7 linked regions of the Homo sapiens genome follow. The protein of the gene in region 4 purifies or fractionates together with the protein of the main gene of each other region. This does not show direct contact. Each region holds a gene or a part of one and is shown on either strand. Other genes may lie near its edges.

Region 1 (3,067 bases), on a different chromosome or scaffold from region 4:
AAAATTATTCTGTCAAATTTTCTTTTCTTTCCATACTTTGTTAGGAGGCTGTTAAGGCTACCAACAGAGGACTAGAAAAAAGTGTTGCCCAGACAGTTAACACATTCTGGAAAGAATATAGTTTTTCACCAAATCACCTTCTTCCCCGTCTAATAAAATGAACAGTTGCTTCTAGTGGAATACAATCTTTATATACCTATTGGACTAGTCTGTAAACCTGCACTTCCATGTCGTAACAAAAGTGATGACCATGTAATCTGATCAACTTATCTTCTGGCATTTTCATGAACAACAATTCTAGGAAACTTCCTTTTGGATGCAAAATGTCCCTTGAATTTTCTGTGTATTCAAAAGCATACAGATATCTTTTATTAGGAAATAGCATGCAGCTTTGAGTATAAGAAACCAAGATATGTGTTTTTTTAATAGCTAAAAATTTAGGGACATGTCTTATCTATTTCCAGCTTAACATCTAGGAGTGTTTATCTTTGTAAGTTTACTTGCAGTCCAAAGGGAGCTGATAAGAACACAGCTATTTTTAAGTAAAATAGCTATTTATTCAGCCTGTTGTCATGCCAACATGTTCTGTGCATATACCACTATAATTAGCACACCCTTTGTAACAGGCAAAATTGTACATCAAGTTGTATGTCATGTTACCTGATTATATAAAAATGTAAAATGAAAATGAATTATCAATTCCTTTTAACATTCCTAGTAAACAATTCAGCAGTAGACATGAGGCACAAAATCTTAGTAAAATATGACACAGGGAGAGCAATAATGTAACTCTTATTTAAACTTAACTTGTCATAATTTGTTATTAATATACAAAGACAACAAACTTTTAAAACATTACATTTACTAAGATTCTGGCAATAAGACACAGCATACCAGGCTTGCCACTCAACTTGTTATTGTAAGTCTCAGCTTCAATATGAAGCCGTTTTTTTTTTTTAATCAAAACCCTGCTTTTTACATGCTAAATATCTTGGCAAGTAGGCCATTAAACATAGTAATGAACTTAAGACAGCAAGAGTGAGGAGTTAACAAAAGCTAAACATTGCAGCCTAAACAAAATTCATACAAAAAAATAAACTATCACTAGTTACATAAAATTTTCCTGACTGGTTAAAACTTAGTATAAAACATGCATTTTAGAATCTTTAGCTATCAAGTTCAAAAAGTACCAATGTCTATTTAAAATAATTCCTCTCCCAAGCCAAAGTGTAGTCAAAATTAATTCAAATGACATAACACATTCTAATGCTAAAAAATATTCATTATTACTAAAGTGGAGGTAAATCCCAGAGCTTTTGGGGCTTTCTCATGCTGCAAATGGCTGTTTCTCTGGTTCACTCAAAGCAGCATATGACAGCATCCAAAGATGACACTAAGCTCAGTAAAGGGCAAGACTGCTGGTAGCCAGCTCTGACCTCCCCGTGAAGCATGGCTACTGTGTCCATAATACAGGATGTGTGAGGATCAAAGGCACACTATTCTGCTAGCTAAAGAGATAGCAAACCACCCCCCAACCCTAAAAGCTCCTTCCCCAGGTAAATAAAAGTATACGAGGGGAAAAAATTAAAATACACTTATCTACAGAGTAAGGGTTTTGAAATATTAATGTAATCCCTCCTTCAAAAATTCTAACTAGAGTCATCTGGTCATTTCTGATTACATCTTAAAGATGTATCCAGATTCAATTTCTGTTGGTTTATCCTTAGACGCTTCTAGTCAAAAGTATTAATTTTATTCCCAAATATCTTAACCACTAGTACGACTGCAGTGTATTATCTCCCAGAGTTATCAAGCACTGGAAGAGAAAAAAATAGATGTTCAAGCAGCAGGCAACATTTATGGCCCTTTCACACAGTGGCATCTGAGTGGCTACTGAATAGTCCAGGAATAATTCCAAAAACAAGAAAATTCATGCATTTTAGTAAATATGTTGTAGTTTTCACAGTTGAAATTTCCTCAGACATTGCACTTTCTTTATAAGGGAATCCTGATTTTTCTTAATGTTATGGTGAGTCAGGACTTGAACTAGCAGCCTTCTTTTTCTTCTTCTTACTGTGTTTCTTATGCTTCTTTTTCTTTTTTGTTTTTTCCTGTAAAGATAATTCCATGTTAGACATTACTATATAAAAATACGCAAATTAAAAGCATCTTTACCATGCTTCTAAGCTACCACATAATTCCAAACAATCCACACAACCAAGAAAACTACTCAAAACATTCCTCAAAAAGTCTCAACAACCAGTATCATATGAGGACTAAAACAGTTCTTGTCGATTTTCAAAAAGATAGGGAGAAACTCTTAAGTCATTAGCATATTAACATAACTTCTAACAAAATTTCCTGTAGGAAATAAATTCAATTGAATCATGCTACCAATCACTATTATTTCATGCTATATAACTTCTAAAGGTAAAGTAATTGCAGTTACTGGAATGGAGTAACCAAATAAAAACATAATTGTTTTTGTAAAATAGTTTTCAGACAGAACAGAGATATTAAATTTGCCAGTTTTAAGTAAATAGGTACACAGGCATTGTGTACTGCTCAGACTGGCAGCACTACTTGAAGTTGCTGTCATTAATTATTAAATTATTAAATTAAAATCAACTAATTAGTACAAAGTATCAATGTATAGTTAAAAAGTCTACTTTGTTAAGCAAAACAGATGTCTGATTTTTAGAAGAAAATGCCACTAATGCCCGGTAGAAGTAGTTAAACTGTGAGTGGATTGAAGGGAGCTGGAGTTTTGCTGAAGTCTGACTCTCCTATTTTTGTTATAGAACGCAGAACTTTTAGAAACACAGATACTTGGAAAGGTGGTACCAAATGAGAGACTGCTGCTAGTGTACTGATATTCAAGAGAAGAAAATGAAAAGCAAAAAAGAAGAGACCTATAAGGATGGTAACAGCAGAGCTTCCTATCCATTTCCTATCTATCAGCACTATCTACTCTCCCCTCTCTCAAAGGCCTCTACCACTCTGTGGCACTAAGCTAATTTTCAACATTCTTTTCTCACTACATGTTTGAAGTACATAGGGAATATTA
Region 2 (3,500 bases), on a different chromosome or scaffold from region 4:
CTGAGGCAGGAGAATGCTTGAACCTGGGAGGCGGAGGTTGCAGTGAGCCGAGATCACACCACTGCACTCCAGCCTGGGCGACAGAGCGAGACTCCATCTCAAAAATATATATATATATATATATATATATAAATTTTTAAAGTCATAAAACTTTAAAATAATCTAATATAGCAGCAAAATAAATAAATGGAGCAAAAATTGTTAGGAACACAAGATTAGCTCTATTAGAAGACAACAAAATGGGAAAATCTGTCTCTTTCAGAAAACAACAGAATAAGAAGCCCCAAACTAAAGCTACAGAATTGCACGGCACCATTAAATAAACTTACTTAAATTCTTAAAAATAAATAAAATTTAATATTTTAATTTAAAACAGAGATCCCACATTCTTTAAAATGTCTATGAAGCTTTGACAAAACCAATCATTTATTAGGCCACAAAGAAAATTCCAACTTCCAAAAAGTCCTTCTTCCTGGATGACTACCATAAGGCCAAAACTTAGCAATCAAAACGTAAAACAACCACACACATACCCCCACCTCTAACCACTGAGAAGCTGAGCACCAATAACTAGATTTGGAGGTTAAAGTAAAAACTGAGAGATTAGGAAGCTATCAAACATTATTTGAAAAATAAAAACAGTACTGGTTCTTAGAACAAATAAAATTGTAAAACCTCTAGGAAGTCTGATCAAAGAGAAAATAAACATACGACATTAGGAATGAGGAAGTGGATATAATCACAAGTGATAAAGAGATTTTTAAAAATAAGAGATGATTGCTCTTTGCCAATTAAATTTGAAAATCTAGGTGAAATGAATGATTTCTGAGGAGAATACAAATTCCTAAATTTGATTCAAGAAGTTGTAGAAAACCTTTCTATACCAATAACCATAGAAAGAATTAAATGGGCAATCCATGCTTTATCCCCAAAAGATAAAGACCCCAATAGTTTCATTAACAAGGTCTAATAAAAATTATAAGGGCATTCTCAATTCATGTTATTTAAAGTATTCCAGGGCATTAAAAACATAGCAATACATTTTTTTCCAATATATTTTCCAAGAAAACAAATCCCTGATACCAAAACAAAATTAAGATAACATAAGAGGCTGGGTGCAGTGGCTCACACCTGTAATCCAAGCACTTTGGGAGGCCGAGGCAGGTGAATCACTTGAAAACAGGAGTTCGAGACTAGCCTGGCCAAAATGGTGAAACCCCGTCTCTACTAAAAACACAAAAATCAGCCTGGTGTGGTGGCGGGAGTAGTCCCAGCTACTCAGGAAGCTGAGGTAGGAGAATCACTTGAACCCAGGAGGCAGAGGCTGCAGTGAGCCGAGATCCTGCCACTGCACTCCAGCCTGGGCGACAGAGCGGGACTGTCTCCAAAAACTAAAAAATAAAAAAAAAAGCCATGAGAAGAGAATTACAAAGCAATATAAATTATAAACATAGATATAAAATTCCTAAACCAAATACTAGCTTATCAACTTTAAAATGTATTAGAATAATATTATCAACCATGATCATTAGGTTTTTACTTTGGGAATTTTTTTTTTTTTTTTTTTTGAGACGGAGTCTTGTTCTGTCACCCAGGCTGGAGTGCAGTGGTGCAATCTCCGCTCACTGCAACCTCCGACTCCTGAGTTCAAGTGATTCTCCTGCCCCAGCTTCCCGAGTAGCTGGGATTACAGGAATGTGCCAACCACACCCGGCTAATTTTTGTATTTTTAGTAGAGATGGGGTTTCCCCACATTGGTCAGGCTGGTCTCGAACTCCTGACCTCATGATCTGCCTGCCTCAGCCTCCCAAAAAAGTGCTGGGATTATAGGTGTGAACCACTGTGCCTGGCCTACTTTGGGAATTAACCATTGCTTTTACATAAGAAAATCTTGGCCAGGAGCAGTGGCTCATCCCTGTAATCCTAGCACTTTGGGAGGCTGAGGTAGGAGGATTGCTTGAGGCCAAGGGTTTGAGACCAGCATGGGCAACAGAGTGAGACCTGTGTCTACAAAAAAAAAAAATTTTAATAAAAAATAAATTAAAAAAAAGAATTCACTGGAAGAACATCCAAGAACAAAAAAAAAAACGAAAAATCTCTTAAGATTCACGAAAGATGAAACTATGTGAACATCTGAATAGTAAAAGTAAATTAGAATATAGTTCAGACACCAAAAGCAAATACAAATTGTACTTAGTGTTAAAACACTATAAATATTCCATTTTTAATTTTTATCTATTTATTTATTTATTTAGAGACAGGGTCTTGCTCTGTCACCCAGGCTGTAGTGGCATGATCATGGTTCACCACAGCTTCGACCTCCCAGGCTCAAGCAAACTCCCATCTCAGCCTCCCAAGTAGCTGGGACTACAGGCGTGTGGCACCATGCCCAGCTAATTTTTAAATTTTTTTTGTAGAGACAGGGTCTCACTGTGTTGCCCAGGCTGTCTTGAACTCCTAGGCTCAAGTGATCCTCCTGCCTCAGCCCCGCAAAGCACTGGGATTACAGGAATGAGCCAAAGTGCTCAGCCTTATTTTTTATTAAAAAACGAAAAAGAGATAAGAAAAAAAAGTTCCCTTTAAAGATCAGAATAAGACAGGGATACATGTGAATACTGCTGTTGTTGCCTGGATATCCTAAACAATTTTAAATCACATAAAAAAAACTATACGCATAATTAGGAAGAAACTCTACTGGTTTGCAGATCATCTAACTGTGTGTATAGGAAATCCAAGAGAATCAAATGAAACACAACTAGAGGCCAGGTGCAGTGGCTCACGCCTGTAATCCCAGTACTTTGGGAGGCTGAGGCAGGTGGATCATTTGAGGTCAGGAATTCGAGACCAACCTGGCCAACATGGCAAAACCCTGTCTCTACTAAAACTACAAAAATTAGCCAGGTATGGTGGCAGGCGCCTGTAATACCAGCTACTCGGGAGGCTGAGGCACAAGAATTGCTTGAACCCGGGAGGCGGAGGTTGCAGTAAGCTGAGATTGTGCCACTGCACTCCAGCCTGAGCGACAGAGCAAGACTCCGTCTCGAAAGAAAGAAAGAAAAACAACTAGAACCAATAAGAAAAAAGATTACTTTGATGAATACATTAAAAAGCATATCTAGAGAAATTAAATTTCTAGACCTAGAGAAAACAATAAAATCATATTTAAGGACACAAAAGGTTTGAATGAAAATCAGTAGATGCACCACATTCTAAAATTTCCATTCTCTCCAAATTTATAAATTCAATGTAATCCAAATGTAAAAATGAGACATTTTTCCCGTTTTGGACTGGGCAAGCCAGTTTCTTTTTCTTTTCTCTCTTTTTTTCAGACACGGCGTCTTCCTATGTTTCCCAGACTAGAGTTCAGTGGGTATTCGCAGGCATGATCATTATACACTACAGCCCTGAACTCCTGGGCTCAAGTGACGCTCCTGCCTTGGCCTGCTGAGTAGCTGCAATTAACAAGCTAATTTCAAAGTAAACAGGCAAGCTCTTTTTAA
Region 3 (3,500 bases), on a different chromosome or scaffold from region 4:
CGCTTAAACCAGGGAGGCGGAGGTTGCAGCAAGCTGAGATCACGCCACTGCACTCCAGCCTGAGCGACAGAGCGAGACTCCATCTCAGAAAACAATAATAATAATAATAATTTACTACAATTTACCTGCTGCAAGACATTAAGTATACTGTAAATAAATTAATGCCCCCTCAACAACATAGGTACCATTTTTCCAACTATCCTCTCTGTCTAAAAAATACTTTAAAAAAGGAAAAGAAATTAGGTTTATAGACCTGAATTTTAAAATTAGAGGTGCTAGGGAAAAACAAAAACTTGCTGCCAGCGCGTGCACAATTTTTTAAAAGCCTAATACTCTAAAATCCATGTAACTTTCAAGTTATTAAATTTTCCCCAATGTTCAAAATTCTGTATGACCATTTCTTTATCTGACTTACATGTATAGATCATTTACAATAAAAAATAGTATGTACTAAATTTTTAGAAAGGCTCTTTAAAATTGCTATATACTATGCTAAATATATTCATTAGGTTAATAACTGTATATATTTCTACTAGTATATAATTATACATAATTTAATTATTTATTAGATTTTATTAACTCTATGATACTAACATTTAGTCTTATACATTCTTTACCAAGAATAAATGAAAAGATATACTATAAGGAAACAACAATCAAAATCCATGAACGTTTTCTAATAATTTCATGGATCTTCCAAGGTAATAAAAGTGTTGTACAATTTGCTTTGTACGAAGCACTATGAGAGACAAAAAGAATTCCAAAAGTAACAGAATATATCCCTGCTTTTAAGGATGTAATGTATGTCACAATACTGGAACATATGTAAAGAGATTAAAAAGGAACAATATAGAATATGGAACACGGGATCAATTGGATCCCTTAGCACCAATACTGTCAGTCTTGGAAATGCAGTCAATTCCTAACATCTTTTTCATAGATGCAAGGCACTTTAAGAAGACATCAATAAACAAAGAGCTTATGGAATAATAAACTTGAACATTCCTCAGTTTCACAAACTAAAGATGGACCAATTACACTAACTCTTGTGACTACTAAAAACAAAAATAGTCTGGGTGTGGTGGCTCACACCTGTAATTCCAGCAGTTTTGGAGGCTGAGGCGGGTGGATCACTTGATGTCAGGAGTTTGAGACCAGCCTGGTCAACACAGTGAAACCCCGTCTCTACTAAAAATACAAAAATTAGCCGGGCCTCGTGGTGCGTGCCTGTAGTCCCAGCTATGCGGGAGGCTGAGGCAGGAGAATCACTTGAACCCAGGAGGCGGAGGTGCAGTGAGCCAAGATCGCATCACTGCACTCCAGCCTGGGTGACAGAGCAAGACTCTGTCTCAAAAATATCTATAAATAAATAAAAATAAAACTTTTACCAGAAGATTAACAAAATATTTTTACATATAAATTATTTATTTAAAATAAAATAATACTTAAGAACTATTAACTTTCTGTAGCAACTAATACAACTATTACATGTCCATAGTCATGAACACAATTCCACAGATTCTAGGTCTCTGGCCTATAGATCTGGCATTGTCTCCCCTTCTATTAATCCACCAAAATTACAAGTGACATCTTTCCAAGTGTAAAAAGACTCAAGTCTACATTCAAGTTTGGATCTTTACTTGGTACTAGAATTCCACATGTCCACTAATTCTCATTTTTAAAAATACAGTTTCTGCCACATCGCCTCAGCAAAAATGGGATCTCACCCTCATCAGAGCACCGCAATTAGCTCTGGATTATTCCTCAGTAAGAAAGGTGGAAAGCTGGTGAGACACAAGAGAAGGTTCCTAGGAAAGTATTATAATGAGTTAAAGTAATCCTGAAGAAAGTTTGAGGCTGGTGGCTCAAGCCTGTAATCCCAGCACTTTGGGAGGCTGAGGTGGGTGGAACGCTTGAGCTCAGGAGTCCGAGACCAGCCTGGGCAACATGGCAAAACCCCTTGTCTACAAAAAAAACAAGAAAATCAGCTGAGTATGGTGGCACACCCTGTGGTCCCAGCTACTCAGAAGGCTGAGGCAGGGGGGATCGCTTGAGCCCAGGAGGTTGAGGCTGCAGTGAGCAGAGATCATGCCACTGCACTCCAGCCTGGGTGACAGAGAGAGACTGTATCAAAACAAAACAAAATAAAACAAAACAAAAACAAAAACGGAAAGTTTGAAAGAACAGAAATCACGTAGCCTGGCAAGAAGTTGACTAGGGAACTTTTTAGATGATAATTCCCAGAAAACAGTGACAGTATTTTAGATGTAGCTATCCACCCACTTCTCTCTATCCTTACTAACACTGCCTTAATGCAGACCATCATTTCATCCTTGAATTGCTATAACCACTTCCTGTTTCTGACTCGACTTTTGTCCCTTCCCAGGCTAGTCTCTACATAACAGCTAGAGTTATCTTTCTGAAATGTAATTCTGACCACTTCAATGCCTGGCTCCCTACCGCGAGTCTGAACACTACCCTATAACTGCCTATTCATCTTGGTCTTTGCATCTCCTACGTTACTGTAAGCTCCATGAGAGCAGTCAGTTTCAAATTCACAGCTGATGACTCCTGGCACCTAGTACAGTGCCTGGCCTAGTTGGCATATGCATATTGGTTGAATTCACGAATAATATTAAGAAGATCCTCACGCTGAAAAATATTTAGCAACTGAACAAATGGCCAAAGAAAAGCATCTACAACAGAAAAATTAGAAAGTCCTCCTGGTACACCTGGAGAAATTTTTTTTTTTTCTGATAGTGCGAACATGTAAGTTTGCTCAATTTTTTTTTTTTTTTTTTGAGACAGAGTCTTACTCTGTCGCCAGGTTAGAGTACAGTGGCACAATGTAGGCTCAATGCAACCTCCACCTCCCAGGTTCAAGTGATTCTCCTGCCTCAGCCTCCCGAGTAGCTGGAATTACAGGTGCCTGCCACCACGCCCAGCTAATTTTTGTATTGTTTTTTTAGTAGAGATGGAGTTTCACCATGTTGGCCAGGATGGTCTCGATCTCCTGACCTCGTGATCCGCCCGCCTCAGCCTCCCAAAGTGCTGGGATTACAGGCGTGAGCCACTGTGCCCAGCCTAAATTTGTTCAATTTTTAAAAAACTTTGAAGGTCAAAAAGAAAACCAGGTATACATTTTTTGAGACGGAGTCTCGCTCTGTTGCCCAGGCTGGAGTGCAATGGCGCGATCTCAGCTCACTGCAAGCTCGGCCTCCCAGGTTCACGCCATTCTCCTGCTTCAGCCTCCCGAGTAGCTGGGACTAGAGGTACCTGCCACCACGCCCGGCTAATTTTTTTGTATTTTTAGGAGAGACGGGGTTTCGCCATGTTACCCAGGATGGTCTCGATCTCCTGACCTTGTGATCTGCCCGCCTTGGCCTCCCAAAGTGCTGGGATTACAGGCGTGAGCCACTGCGCCCAGCCTAAAAGCAGGTATACATTTAATGTTTAGCAGATGACTAATTGTCCATAAATTTAAAAATTATTCTAAATAT
Region 4 (4,155 bases):
GCGTTCAAGCGATTCTCCTGCCTCAGCCTCCTGAGTAGCTGGGACTACAGACACATGCCACCATGCCCAGCTAATTTTTGTATTTTTAGTAGAGACAGGGTTTCACCATGTTGGCCAGGCTGGTCTCAATCTCTTGACCTTGTGATCCGCCCGCCTCGGCCTCCCAAAGTGCTGGGATTACAGGCGTGAGCCACCGCGCCCGACCGCATCATCTTTTTTATGTGACAAACTCCTAGTCATTCCTCAAACCGCAGCCCCTGTGACCCCCTTCCAAGGGTTATCCCAGCCTCTCCCTCTCTGGCCTAGCCCTGACCCTTCGGGGCTGGGTGTGCCTGTCAAGGTGGGGGCCACGGCTGCCGGGAGCATGGGTGGCAGCCGGAAGGAGACCTGGGGAGGAGCGCAGCCCTGGGAGGGGCGCCCATGGCCAGGGTGGGGGTGGAGGTGGTCAGGCCAGATAAAGGGAGGGGCCAGATGAGTGGACAGGAGGTGCTCCCGTAGGAATGGGGTCCCCTTCTCTAAATAGAGGGGCAGGACGGGGCCCACCTCAACCAGGACCATCCTCAAAAAGCCGACGGGGAAGGGTGAGATGCACACCACATTCGTGTCTCATTGGCTGTGGCCTCAGTTTCTTCATCTGTAAAATGGGGTAATGCCCACCCCAAAGGCTGGGAACCAGTGCATGTCCTGCATTAATGGGGGGTGATGGCCCCAAAGTGATCCTGCCGCATCCCCTCACCACACTCCCACCCACCCTGGAGAAACTGAGGCTTGGAGAGGCCAGTTACCTCCCGGGGTCACAGCATAGCCGGCTGGTGACTGGCTGGGCACAAGGCAGGCCTGGCACTGGCTAATCGCTCCATAAATGCCCTCTGAGGTCACCATTGACAGATGCAGGAGGCCAGGGCTGGCCAGGGCACCCCCACTCTACGGCAGGTGACTCCAGCCTGTTTTCCTGGACGACAGCCGCTGACTCAGGCCCCTCTTCCCGTCCCCCCCACGCGGGCGCCCCCAGGCGGAAGCACCGGGCCTGGGGCGACAGGAAGGGGGCGGGGCAGCGAGTCGCGCTGTACACCCCAAAACCCTGTCCCGCTGACGATTCGGGGTGCATCTCAGCCCGCGGCGAGGCGGGCCGAGACCCTTGGCTCGGGGCATTCAAGGGGAGTCCCCCCATGAACTGCGCCAAGCCTGGGTCCCGGGTGGCCCAGCCGTCAAGGCGCCCCAGGGCCAGGGCCGGCAGGCAGGGGCGGGGGCCAGTCTGCGTCACCGCCCGCCCGGCCCCCCGCCCCCCTGCCCGCCCTAACTCCACCCCGAGGGAAGGCGGCGCGGATAAAGGCTGAGGGCCGCGCGCTTGGCCCAGACCGGCCCGGCCAGCGCGCATTCGGCCCCGGACGAAGGTACTCGCAGCACTTGGAGCGCAGAACCGGCCGCGCCCGGTGAGTGTGGAGGGGGGGGACCTGCGGGCCGAGGAAGGGTGCCCACTCTAGATGGCTCAGGATGCCCGCACTTTTCTTTGTTCTTGGGACAGGAGGGATCGGGGAGCCTCCGGTCCTGGGAAGCCCCCCGGGGTGCGGGGTGGGAGGGGCTCCGCGCAGCCAGCGCCGCCCTGGCCGGACCTCAGCCCCCGCCCCGCCCCCCGGGGCACTCCCCCTTCACCGCGGGTGACCTTGAACTGGTTGCCGTTCCGCCCTCCGTTGCCCAGCCACACGGTCCCAGTCTCCCGACTACAGTCTTTCGTTCCCGATCGGGGTTCCTCCCCCGCGCGCAGCCCAGTCGTCTTCCTCCCCTGCCAGGGGCAGCGCGGCGCCCCCTCCCCGGGACTCCGGGCGGCGCTCCCAGGCGGGCCCGGCAGAGGGCGCGCCCGAGCTGCTGACTCACCGCATCCCCGAGCGCGCGCGGGCGCAGCCGGGGACGCCGCGTCACGTCACGGCTCGAGCGGGCGCGCCTCGGGGAAACGGGTTCTGCCCGCGGCCGGCGGGTGGGCGCGCGGGGCCCCCGGCGGCAGCCACCCGGCCACGTCACCGAGGTGCGGGCGCCCCGCCCCGGCCACAACTCCGCCCCCACGCACCACGCCCTCCCCGGGGCCGCGGCCCTAGCCTCACCGTCGCCCGCCCGCCCCGGGACCCCGGCCACGAGGCGCGGACTTCGCGCTCCCGCTTCCGCTCGCGGCTTTTCCCGGACGAAGGCGGCGGGGTGGCCCCACGACTTCCTGCCCCTCCCGGCGCCGGGAACAATGGCCCGCGCCCCCTCCCGCTCCCGGCCGCTCCCTTGGGATCGCGAGGGGTACCAGACCCGTCTCCAGACCTGGGTCCCGCGCCCCCCGGGGCGCGCCCGCCCTTTGTTGCGGGCTCCGGGCGCTTATGAATGGCTGCGGGCGCGGGCGGGGCGGGGGCGGGCGCGGAGAGGCGCCAGCCCCGCCCCCGCTGCGCTCCCCTTGGTCGCCTGGGCGCTGGGGGCGGGGCGAGGGGGCGGGCCCGGCTGCCACGTGGGGCGGTGCCGCGGCGGCTCTCATAGGCCCGGGCTCGCGGCCGACTGGGCGCTCGGCGCGCGGCGATTGGCCGGCGCCCGGCCGGCGGAGTAAGTAGTGAATGGGAGGGGGCGGCGGCCCCGCCCCCTGGAACGTTGATACATTATAACTTTTTTTTCTTGTTACTTTCACCCCCAGATCCTCCGAGCGGCGGCGACGGCTGTTGCTAAGGGAGGGGACGCGCGAGGAAGCGCGACCCGGGCGGCAGACGGCACCCAGCGCCACCAGCCGAGCGGCGCCCCCTCCCCAGGACCCTTAACCGCGCCGCGTCCCGGTCGCGCCCGCCGCCCTTTGAAGGAGAAGCAAGTGCCGTCCCCACCCCCGGAAGGCGCCCCCAGGAGCCGGAGCGACCTCGGAGCGCCACTCGGATTTTGGATTTCGGTCTCGCATTCCGCGGCCGGGACTTTCTCGAGGAGGACGCGCGCTGCTCCGCGCCCCCGAGTGCCCGGAGGACCCGGCATCCGGGGAGCCTCTCGCCCCTGTCCCGGAGGCGCGGCGAGGATTGGCGGCGCCCGCCGCCCCCAGCCCCCCAGCGCGCGCCGGGGATGGAGCCGCAGCCCGGCGGCGCCCGGAGCTGCCGGCGCGGGGCCCCCGGCGGCGCCTGCGAGCTGGGCCCGGCGGCCGAGGCGGCGCCCATGAGCCTCGCCATCCACAGCACCACGGGCACCCGCTACGACCTGGCCGTGCCGCCCGACGAGACGGTGGAGGGGCTGCGCAAGCGGTTGTCCCAGCGCCTCAAAGTGCCCAAGGAGCGCCTGGCTCTTCTCCACAAAGACACGTAGGTACCGCGCGCCCCCGGCCGGCCGCCCCCTCGGGCCCCGGCCCCCGGGCGGGAACAAAGAGCGCGCCGCGCGGGGAAGGCAGGGGGCGGCCAGACAGGGGGCGGGGGCGCGCCGCGCGCTCTCGGGCGCCCTCTGCTCGGCCTCGCCTGCCTCGGCCCCCTCCCCCGCCCGGGGTCGCCGCACAAAGGCGGCTGCGAGGGCGTCCCGGGCCGGGCTTCGGCGGCCCCCCTTGGGGGCGGGCAGGAATCCCAGGGCGTTGCGGGGGTCCCGGCTGCGGGTGTGGGGGCCGCCACCGCCCCCTCCCGCCTGCGTCCGCGCCGGCTTCCGCATCTGCTCGGCGGCCTCCTCTGCGTCTGGCTGTCTCCCCCCACTTGCGTCTCTCTCCCCCCCTTTGTTCTCGCCTCCGAGCGCTCCCCGCAGCCTCCCCTCCCCCCTGGTATTTAAATCGCCTGCAGGCCCGGAGCCCTCCCCCCGCGGGCCTCCGGGGACACGCAGTGTCCATCCCAGTGGAGGGGCCCATCGGGGGAGGGGCGGAGGGGGAGGGTCTCCTTTGTCTGCGCGGCGGCGGCCGCCTGCGCCGGGGAGGGAGGAGGAGGGGGAGCCCGGCCCGGCGCAACCCCCAGGGCCTCTCCTCGGGCCGAAACCCGTGGTTCCTACAAAGAGGAGCCAGGACTAGAATTAGGGAATTGGGGGCAGGGGCTGCCCTGGGGTCGTGGGGGAAGGTGGCATAGAGCACACTGGGGCCCAGAGGAGGAGAAAGTGCCTGGTTGGGGTGCAGAGGGGGTGCCAGAGTCCAGGGCGGGGGTTCCACTGGAGGGAAGGGGTCCGAATCGCCAGGATGGGGCTCCC
Region 5 (3,500 bases), on a different chromosome or scaffold from region 4:
ATCCCTCACCTGCATAATGTGGGGGAAAGGCAGGGAGGGCAGGTGCAGACAGCCCCAGCAGGTCCCTCTTCCCAGGGCTAGGAACTAGAAGTCCAGGAAACAGCTGTGATTTATTCTGCAGCACTGCAATATACCAATCTCCCTACTACCCATCTGCCCCGGGGCCAAACAAAAACACTAAGGAGTTTACAAAGCAAAGTGGCCTTCCCAAGGACAGGGAGGATGAGTCTGGAGCCAGGGTGGAGTCTGGAGCCAGGGTGGACTCTGGCACGGGAGCCTCATGGAGCTGAAATCTGTATCACGGCCCCATTGCTGAGCAGCTCAGTGACCTTGGGCAGGCCGCTCAACCACTCTGAAAACTCAGGGTCCCCTCCTCCGAGGGAGGCCTTGCTGCCACCAGCCCTGCTGGCCACCCTTGCCTGCTGAGGTCTGTGTGAAATCACGGGCTATGACACAATATAGTAGGTAGAGGTTCAAAGGATCCGGCAGGCCCATCCACTCAGAGTCTCGCTGCAAAGCAGCTCTGACACCAGGGCCACCTCTGGCACAGCATGCAACCGCCAAGCTGCGCCCAAGGGGAAGGAGCCAGAAGGGTTACAGGCTCCAGGCAAAAACCAGGCTGTGGTTTCATGTGAACTAGGATGACCCTGACTGAGAAAACCAGTGAGTGGTTTGGAAGATTTCAGTTCCAGCTTCCAGAGACAAAATGTCAGTGAATCAACCCCCTAGGTGCTCTTGCCCCCAACGGAAGTGACAATGCCTTGAGAGCTCTGGGTAGGGCATGGGGGCTCCATTCCAGAGCAGCTGTAAGACTGCCTCAATTGCTAAAACTGGAAAAAGCACAAAATCTAGGGCAGAGTTTTCGAACCTGCCCCAAATGGCCCCAGAGATGACCCAAGGCCCTCCCCCGCCACCCCGCCCCAGGATGGGAGGCCAAGCTCCAGGCTTTGGCTGCCTTGCCCAGAGCTGCACTGCTTTTGATGAAAGCTTGAAAACCATCCACCTGGTCCAACGGTGTCATTCAGCTGAGAAAGAGTGGCTTGGGGAATGAGTTTCCCAGGATAAGAGAAGAGCCCGTTTTCTTAGGTCAGATGCTTCCAAATTAGCACCCAATGATCCTCCATGTCCAGTAGTAGGATGTCTTCCCCTGTGCCTCGCTGCCACACTCTCTCCCTCTTTCAAGACTAAGTGGCAGCTTGGGAACAATTTAAACATTCTGAGTTAAATTTCTTTATTTCTGCTAAAGAACATGAGGTTGCCCAAAGAAAGGCTACTTCCCCCAGAGGCGGCAGCCAGCGTGCTTCCTGGAACATCCCTCACCACATGGGGGGCTCAGGAACTCCCCATTCCATCAGCACACTACTCTGCAAAGAGAAGGCAGGCACCCGCTTTACAGGTGGGAGACATAAGTCACCTTCCTGGGTCACCCTGCACATTTGTGTCAGGAAGAGAACATAGGCCTTGGACTATAGTCCTTCTGTGTGGCAAGGGAAAGAGAAATCAGAGGAAAAGATCAGGTAACAGGCTAGAACCCAGGGAAAAAAGCTAGGGTGCAATTACATAATACTGGAACATTGCACGTCCAGTTTAGAGGGGGATACGCCAGCCTGCCCACCACGGCCCTCACCGGCTCCCCACAGGACAGGCCTGAGGCCCTGGCAAGGACCTTCCTCCCTTCTGCCCCTAAACTCTGCCTCTGGGCAGGGAGTGGGGATCAGAGCCCAGAAGAGAACTTCTAACACACCAAAAGAAGCCATCAAAGATGTGATAGTCAAAGAAAGAAACTTCAAAAGTTGGCAATAGACACCAAGGGCCAAGGAGGAGTGGGGACACAAACAGGAGTAACAAGTCCCAGAGAAGCAGCACTCCAGGAACCTTCCAACCCAAGGCCCAAGGGAGGGACGGAGGAAACTCACCACCACCTGTGGCACCCCAGGGCTGCCACCAGGACTGCGGGCAGCGGCCACACCACCAGGCTACTAAGCAGTGGGAAAGTGGCTCGTCTGAGCTGAAATGTGCTGTAACGTAAAATGCGCACGTCATAACTTTTTTGCATGGTGTAATGACAGTATTTTGGATATATCTGGTTAAATAAAACATAATTAAAATTAATTTCACCTCTTTTTTTTTTTTTTTTTTTTTGAGACGGAGTCTCACTCTATTGCCCAGGCTGGAGTGCAGTGGCGCAATCTCAGCTCACTGCAAGCTCCGCCTCCCGGGTTCACACCATTCTCCTGCCTCAGCCTCCTGAGTAGCTGGGACTACAGGCGCCCACCACCACGCCCGATTAATTTTTTGTATTTTTAGTAGAGACAGGGTTTCACCGTGGTCTCGATCTCCTGACCTCGTGATCCACCCGCCTCGGCCTCCCAAAGTGCTGGGATTGCAGGCGTGAGCCACTGTGCCCGGCCCCGACTAATTTATTGTATTTTTAGTAGAGACGGGTTTCACTGTGTTAGCCAGGATGGTCTTGATCTCCTGACCTCGTGATCCGCCCGTCTCGGCCTCCCAAAGTGCTGAAATTACAGGCGTGAGCCACTGCACCCGGCCCCTCTTTTTACTTTTTTAACGTAGCCGCTGGAAAATTTAAAATTTCCTATGTGGCTTCCATTACAGTTCTAGAGGACAGGGCTGGTCTGAGGGGTGGCACACTGTGCCCCTGTGCCAAATTGGCCCACCAGCTGCTTTTCTAAGACCCCAAAACCAAGAATGGCTTTTACATTTTTAAGTGGCTATATCCTACACAACCTCCTCGATTTTGCCTGTTGGCCTGCAAAACCTAAAATATACAAGATTTCTTTTGAGTAAAAGGCTCCGGGATTTGATGAAAGCTTGAAAACCACCGACCTGGTCCAACTGTGTCATTCAGGTGGGAAAGAGTGGCTTGGGGAAGGAGTTCCCCAGGATAAAAGAAGAGTCCTTTATAAAAAAAATTGCCAAGCCTTGGTCTAGACTCTAGAAACAATCAGATATTCACTCCAGGTGACACAAGGAGCAGAAGGCAGGTGTGTGTGTGTGAGAGAGCGATTCTTGTACAGACAGTCCCTGACTTATAATTTTGACTTTGTGATAGGTCTGATGGGTTTTACCTGGATGTACCCCCACCATAAGTCCCATCATAAGTCAAGAAGCATTTGGAAGTGAACAATTCAGGGGCATTTAGTACATTTCACAAGGCTGTGCAACCAGCACTTTTATCTAGTTCCAAAACATTTCATCACCCCCAAAATAGAACCCCAGTCTCATTAGCAGTCATTCCACATTGCCCACCCAACCCTCAGGCTCTGGCAACAACCGATCTGCTTTCTGTTTCTACAGATTTACCTGTTTTGGACATTTTACATAAATGGAATCACACAGTATGTGACACATGACCTTTCATGTCTGCCTCTTAGCGCAATGTTTTCTAGGTTCGTCCATGTTGTGGCATGTCTCAGTACTTCGCTCCTTCTTAGAACTGAATGATATTCCATGGTATGGATACACTATGATTTGCTTAT
Region 6 (3,500 bases), on a different chromosome or scaffold from region 4:
CCAGCAAGACTCTGTCTCAAAAAAAAGAAAAAAAGTAAAAGAAAGCTCGGCATGGTGGCTCACGCCTGTAATCCTAGCACTTGGGGAGGCTGAGGTGGACGGATCACGAGGTCAGGAGTTTGAGACCAGCCTGACCAACATGGTGAAACCCCATCTCTACTAAAAATACAAAATTAGGGTCAGGCACGGTGGCTCATGCCTGTAATCCCAACACTTTTGGAGGCCGAGGCAGGTGGATCACGAGGTCAGGAGATCGAGACCATCCTGGCTAACACGGTGAAACCCCATCTCTACTAAAAGTACAAAAAATTAGCCAGGCGTGGTGGCACGCGCCTGTAGTCCCAGCTACTCGGGAGGCTGAGGCAGGAAAATCGCTTGAACCTAGGAGGCAGAGGTTGCAGTGAGCTGAGATGGCGCCACTGTACTCCAGCCTGGCAGAGTGAGACCCCATCTCAAAATAAATAAATAAATACATACACACATACAAAAACGTGCTAGGCGTGGTGGCGTGCACCTGTAATCCCAGCTACTCAGGAGGCTGAGGCAGGAGAATCGCTTGAACCTGGGAGGCAGAGGTTGCAGTGAGCAGAGATCGTGCCACTGCACTCCAGCCTGGGCGACAGAGCGAAACTCCATCTCAAAAAGGAAAAAGAAAAGAAAAGAAAGTGAGCAAATAATATGAACAATAAAAATAAATATTAAAATGACCCTTAAACATATGAAAACATGTTCAATTCACTTGTAATAGAAGTACAAATGGAAAATACACTGAGATACAATTTCTTACCTATTAGATCAGCACAAATTCAAAAGCTGACAAAACACTGCTGGTGAGGCTGTGAGGAAATAAGCACTCTACTCTCATACACTGCTGGTAGGAATGCAAAATAGTATAACCCCACAGGATGAGGAGTTTGACAGTACCTAACAACTCTACATATGCATTTATCCTGAAGATGTATCTCTCCAACAATACAAAGATACATGTACACAAAGTTTTTCACTGTAACATCATTTGTAATTGCAAAATATTAGATATTACTTAAATGTTCAAACAGGACATTAGTCGAGAAAACTATGGTACATACACGATAGCAGTTAAGAATGAAAGTTACTGATTTTAGTTTATGTATTTTATCTTTTCACACAGCTACTGACTTGTTAGGAGATACATACTTATTAAGTTGTTCAGACCTAATTACTTAATAAATTAAACTGGCCAGGCATGGTTGCTGACGCCTGTAATCCCAGCACTTTGGGAGGCTGAGGCACATGGCTCACGAGGTCAGGAGTTCGAGACCAGCCTGGCCAGCATGGTGAAACCCCGTCTCTACTAAAAATACAAAAAATTAGCCAGGCATGGTGCCGCGTGCCTGTAATCCCAGCTACTCGGGAGGCTGAGGCAGGAGAATTGCTTGAACCTGGGAGGTGGAGGCGGCAGTGAGCCGAAATCGCGCCACTGCACTCCAGCACGGGTGAAAGAGCGAGACTCCGTCTCAAAAAACAAAAAACAAAAAAATTAAACTGTTAGGTGTTTCTTTTGACCTAGGGATGCTGTGAAAAAAATTACTGCGATAATAAGGGTGCCATGAATTGAGAAAGTTTGGGCACTTGACTGATAAAGGCCTACGAAGAAGGCCTTTAAGAGAGAGAAAGAATGTGTGTGTGTGTGTGTGTGTGTGTGTGTGTGTGTGTAGTTATGAGGTTACTGTGGACTGCTGTCAACAAAATTTACAATAGGCTAATGAAAGTACTCTCTCCAGTGTAGTTAAGAGCTGTAACAGATATTATGACAGCACATAAGAGAAGCAATCAGCCCAGTCTTAAAGGTTTTTTGTTTTTTGTTTTTTGAGGGATGGGATCCAGAGAGAGAACCTAATTGTAATTTTTTGGAGAATTATAACCTAAACTGAGTTCTGAAGGACCAGTAGGAGTATACTAGATTAGGGGAAGGAAGAGAGGCTAGAATTCCAGGAAGAGGAAATGGAGGACTGAGTAAACAAACACTAGCATTCCAGAAGCTGGGTATTGGTAGAACAAAAGATCATCCAAGAAGAGAGATAAGGCTAAAGGGTTAGGTAAGAAAAAAAATGAAAAATATGAAAGATAAAGGGGAAAAAAGAGAGTTAGGTAAGGAGCACATCTTGAAGGTTTTGTATATGAGATTAAGGATAAATGGAGTTTGAATTTTATTAATGGGCAAAAAAGAGCCACAAGAGGATTTTAAGCAGAGAAATATCACCATTGTTCTAAGCAAGAATGGGAAAAGTATCAGATGGGTTCCAACCATAGGCTAGAAGGCTGCTGTAGTAATCCAGAATATCTAGACAGGGCAGCTGAACTCAGTGTTTGGTCACGCAGTGTGGCAACCTCCACTTTTAATGGAGTACTATGTTAGCTTCTCAACTACATAAGAAAACAGATCCTGTGGCTTAGATGACCATAATCATAACTTTTGGAAACTGGGGGATCTTTGCCCACCTTCCCAATAAATCTGGGAGTATACGCCATTTTATAATCTAACTATGTCTTATTGTCCAAAATAACATTACCAAACCCTGACATTTAGTTTCAAAAGTAAATTCAGCAATAAAATTGGATCCCAGACTTTAAGGAGACTATGTATGTCAGTGTTACATCTATTGCATCTAATATAGGACCCTAGCTGTGAAGGCCTTTAAGAATAGTATAATTTTATGGAAGCATGCCTTTTTTGGCTTGTAAAGACTACCCTCTTGACTTTCAGAAACTAAGTCATCACCTTCACGTATAATTAAATCAAAGATGCAAATTCTCACCTAAAATTTACTCATACATATTTTAGAAACCCATAGAACTTTAATTTCTTTTTTTCTATACGGCAACCCAAATCCTTATGAATGCGATAAGGTAATAAGAAAGATGTCTTAAAGAAAAAACAGAATAACTGTTACTTATGGGGGCCAGACAATCAGCTGTTTTTTACTTAAGGGTACATCTTTTAAAAAAAAAAAAGAGAGAGAGAGAGAGATGGACACATTCTTCAAATTAAGCCTATTTAAAAGTGCATTTTAAAAAGTGCACAGGCTTAGGAGGGAAGAGAATTCTACCAGCACTGAATAGCAGCTAAACCCTTACAAGACTTCTGCCACTTTTAAGCCTCCATCTTAAACCCAGAGAAAATGATTAATGGTCTCAAACGGTTAAAAACAGACCAAGCACATCTCTGCTTCTTTTACCATTCTTTCTACTGTCCCCCATAGCTTCTCCCCCATTTCCATTAGTGAAAGAACGAACTAAAAAAAATGTGATTTCAAGGAAAGGTCACTACAAATAGATTTATGGTATTCCTCTCAAATAGGGACGATTCTGTTACTTTAAAAAGCACTAATCAAACACCAGAATTGAGTCCAAATACTTTACCGGGACACCCACGGGAAAAATGCCCAACCATTTTTCCATCATGGCACACATGGACGGTGATAACACTGTATTTGTAGGCACGCTGAAGATAAAAGAGA
Region 7 (2,999 bases), on a different chromosome or scaffold from region 4:
CTGTCCTCCACCTAAAATGCCCTCTTTCTCCTCCCACCTTCTCTATAAGACCTATCTTTTAAGGTTAAATGTTATATGCTCCACAATGCCTCTCTTGATCCTTCTTCCTACCTGAAGTCACCTCTCCTCAACACTCACATTATTTATACCTTCCTAATATTAACAAATACTTAAAACATTACAGATGGCTAGCAGAATTCATCTCTCTCCTACTAGAGTTGAAGCAGCAGTGATTTAGAGAACTACCACATGGAAGCTCACCCAGCAAGTAAAGAGCAAAGCCTAAAGACCATGCATATCTCGGGTACTAAGATATAAAAGTATGCCTTTTGCTAGTCTGTCCCACCTCTTCATTAGGGGCCATATAGTAAAATTACTGTGTACCAGAGACTACAGTAAGCCCTTCTTTATATGCATTCTTTCACTGAATCTGCCCAACAATCCTATGTAGCAGGTATTACCATAGCCTATTTTTTTACAAATAAGGCAAGTGAGGCTCGGGCCAGTTTGTCCAAGGTCGCAGTGCTAGAAAGTGACTGTGTCAGGAACAGAATTTGGTCTATTGGATGCCCAAATTTACGTCCTTAAGGGCTATGAAATATTAAATCAGATACCCACTATGAAGCAAATTACATTTGCAACGTAAGCATCAAAGACAAAATACACCTTTGATTTCTAAAAAGTAATCAATTAAGGAGAAAAGAGTCTTAATTTTCATCAGAGAATGTACATTCAATGACAATGGAGCTAACTCCAATTTTGATGGTGTGAACAATATGAGATTGTGACACAATGCTGTAAAGGAAAAGATGCATCATCTCAAAATAAATTGAATTCCCATTTCAAAATAAATTGAATTCCAACCAGAACGCAAGGTATATGAAGACAGCAACCATGTTTGTCTCACTGCTGTGTACCTCCACATTATAGAACTGTCTTACACAAAGGTGCCTAACACCCAATGAAATTGACGGTAAACACTGGGAAATAAGCACACTGTTTAAATGGCAAAAGTTTACACTTGAGAACTTTATAGCAGGAAATGATAGCTATTTCAGATAGATTTTTTAAGTAAACCATACAAAGTGGTAAAAGAATTAAAGAGACAAAGAAAGCCTGCCTGAATAGAGAAGGAAACAGTTAAGAATAACTACCAAAGGTGTCTTCCTGAATCCTTTCCCTCTCTGAAGGTTCAAATCATCTGGCTTCAAATCAAAGTAAAAAAAATAGGTGGAAAATAGAGAATTGCCCTTCTAGTCTTCCTACTTTGGAATTCCTTTTTAAATAGCAGCTTTCAAATATCTTTTTATAATAAATGTTTTACCTTGTAACATTTAAATTCTCATTCAAGGCAAATATGAAGTTCACTCAAAAGCAGGACAGCTAAGGAGTTATTTGACTAGGCAGTCTTTGTTGCTGTTTCAAAAGGCCAAAATAAGGCTGAGGAGGAAAATTTCCCCAATGATCACTCTTAAAGTGATTCAATAAATTGGTTACGATGGAGAAAGACACTTAGCCTAAGTGCAAGTGCTGTCTTTTTGGGTAAAATCCGTGTAGTCTAGATGCAGTTCTGCTCCAAATCCAACATCCAAATGCCTATCTGCAATCAGCAGACGCGGGCAGACAAAATTTAACCTAAAATGCAAACTCTCAAAACTTAAGCACACTTAAAAGGTAAACTAAGTTTACAAATCCAATAACTGATACCATCACTTCTGGTTTTGAAGGAAATCATAAATGCAAATTTCTCAAGTATCCTCAATCTTTTAGGTTTACTTAAAAATTATGAAAATTAGATTTGAATATGAAACGTTCCAAATCACTAAGTTAAAAATGGATGAATGGGTACAATCAGTATAGTCATTCTGATTTGATAGTTATCACTGTGAACCTTAACCACTTGCAGGCTTTTTTTTGGATACAGTAAATCAGTACCAATGAGAGCTTTTTAAATGACCTGAAAAACACTACAGATATTCCAATCAAAAAATCTAAAATGCTCCAAAATCCGAAATTTTTTGAGTGCAGACATGACATTCAAAGGAAATGCTCATTGAAGCAGTTTGGATTTTACATTTTTGTATGAGAGCTGCTCAGCTGGTAAACATAATGGAAATATTCAAAAATTGAAAAAAATCTAAAACTCAAAACACTTCTGGGCCCAAGAATTTCAGATAAGGAATACTCAACCTGTATCATCTCTAACAGCCTTTCAAACCACTTTCAACTAATGACTACTGAATTTATACTTTTAAAAGAATGTAAATGCCAAAGATCTTCACATTAAGATGAAAAATAGGAGGTTCACTTTTATTTTGCTAATCCGTCAAAATACATTCAAGCATGGCACAAAAATTATATTCAACACTAGGTTCTGTACCACCTGCTCCCATGAACTCTTAAATCTGAATAATGTTCAGATAATTTTCATAGGTGGAAGTGGTCAAAACATACAACCAATTGTCCCTCCTCCCCAAGTCCCACATGCCAAAATGTTTGCATATAAACTGACAAGAGGAACCCAGAAGTGACTAAATACCACTATGCTTTTTTCTTCACTACAAATAGCAATTTTAAGGGTAGACACATGACAATGAAGTGTTAATATACCATGAACAGAACAGGTTGCCTTCCTAATACACAGAAAATCCTTTTACATAATTCATTTGCAAACTTTAGAAGCCACTATATTCCCATGTTGGGAATAATATGACAACCTTATTAAACTGAAAACCCTGAGAAAGGTGTACTATTCCAATTGACCCAGATCTTCCCACCAAAACTGAGTAAGTCAAGCAGAGTAGTATTTAACAATTACAACGAAAAATTTCAGAGAATCATTTTCTGTATCCTAGAGGCCACTCTACAGCCACCAAAAAGCTGGACCAAATTACCAAATGAAGTAGCCCACATGTAATTTGTGTATCACTAGAATTAAAAAATAAGACAGAAATGTATGGAAAGTGTACAACTATTTGAGAGCAAAGGATTTGACTATG

What was found.
Region 1: the proteins of MIDN (region 4) and FAM133B purify together in Homo sapiens (affinity purification with mass spectrometry, with the first as the bait; one large-scale study listed by BioGRID). This does not show direct contact.
Region 2: the proteins of MIDN (region 4) and HIGD1A purify together in Homo sapiens (affinity purification with mass spectrometry, with the first as the bait; one large-scale study listed by BioGRID). This does not show direct contact.
Region 3: the proteins of MIDN (region 4) and PCMT1 purify together in Homo sapiens (affinity purification with mass spectrometry, with the first as the bait; one large-scale study listed by BioGRID). This does not show direct contact.
Region 5: the proteins of MIDN (region 4) and MPRIP purify together in Homo sapiens (affinity purification with mass spectrometry, with the first as the bait; one large-scale study listed by BioGRID). This does not show direct contact.
Region 6: the proteins of MIDN (region 4) and RALA purify together in Homo sapiens (affinity purification with mass spectrometry, with the first as the bait; one large-scale study listed by BioGRID). This does not show direct contact.
Region 7: the proteins of MIDN (region 4) and HNRNPA0 purify together in Homo sapiens (affinity purification with mass spectrometry, with the first as the bait; one large-scale study listed by BioGRID). This does not show direct contact.

Annotation. Positions count from the first base shown.
Region 1 is NC_000007.14:92,560,258-92,563,324, forward strand, and holds the end of FAM133B (protein FAM133B), read right to left. Parts: intron 2,112-3,067; coding exon 2,025-2,111; 3' UTR 501-2,024; downstream 1-500.
Region 2 is NC_000003.12:42,787,491-42,790,990, forward strand, and holds part of HIGD1A (HIG1 domain family member 1A, mitochondrial), read right to left. Parts: intron 1-3,500. UniProt on the Homo sapiens protein: Proposed subunit of cytochrome c oxidase (COX, complex IV), which is the terminal component of the mitochondrial respiratory chain that catalyzes the reduction of oxygen to water. May play a role in the assembly of respiratory supercomplexes.
Region 3 is NC_000006.12:149,805,241-149,808,740, reverse strand, and holds part of PCMT1 (protein-L-isoaspartate(D-aspartate) O-methyltransferase), read right to left. Parts: intron 3,439-3,500; exon of another isoform or gene 3,402-3,438; intron 1-3,401. UniProt on the Homo sapiens protein: Initiates the repair of damaged proteins by catalyzing methyl esterification of L-isoaspartyl and D-aspartyl residues produced by spontaneous isomerization and racemization of L-aspartyl and L-asparaginyl residues in aging peptides and proteins.
Region 4 is NC_000019.10:1,247,228-1,251,382, forward strand, and holds the start of MIDN (midnolin), read left to right. Parts: upstream 1-1,355; 5' UTR 1,356-1,433; intron 1,434-2,660; exon of another isoform or gene 2,661-2,662; 5' UTR 2,663-3,069; coding exon 3,070-3,302; intron 3,303-4,155. UniProt on the Homo sapiens protein: Facilitates the ubiquitin-independent proteasomal degradation of stimulus-induced transcription factors such as FOSB, EGR1, NR4A1, and IRF4 to the proteasome for degradation. Promotes also the degradation of other substrates such as CBX4.
Region 5 is NC_000017.11:17,048,957-17,052,456, reverse strand, and holds part of MPRIP (myosin phosphatase Rho-interacting protein), read right to left. Parts: intron 1-3,500. UniProt on the Homo sapiens protein: Targets myosin phosphatase to the actin cytoskeleton. Required for the regulation of the actin cytoskeleton by RhoA and ROCK1.
Region 6 is NC_000007.14:39,626,572-39,630,071, reverse strand, and holds part of RALA (ras-related protein Ral-A precursor), read right to left. Parts: intron 1-3,500. UniProt on the Homo sapiens protein: Multifunctional GTPase involved in a variety of cellular processes including gene expression, cell migration, cell proliferation, oncogenic transformation and membrane trafficking.
Region 7 is NC_000005.10:137,748,150-137,751,148, forward strand, and holds part of HNRNPA0 (heterogeneous nuclear ribonucleoprotein A0), read right to left. Parts: 3' UTR 1-2,999. UniProt on the Homo sapiens protein: mRNA-binding component of ribonucleosomes. Specifically binds AU-rich element (ARE)-containing mRNAs. Involved in post-transcriptional regulation of cytokines mRNAs.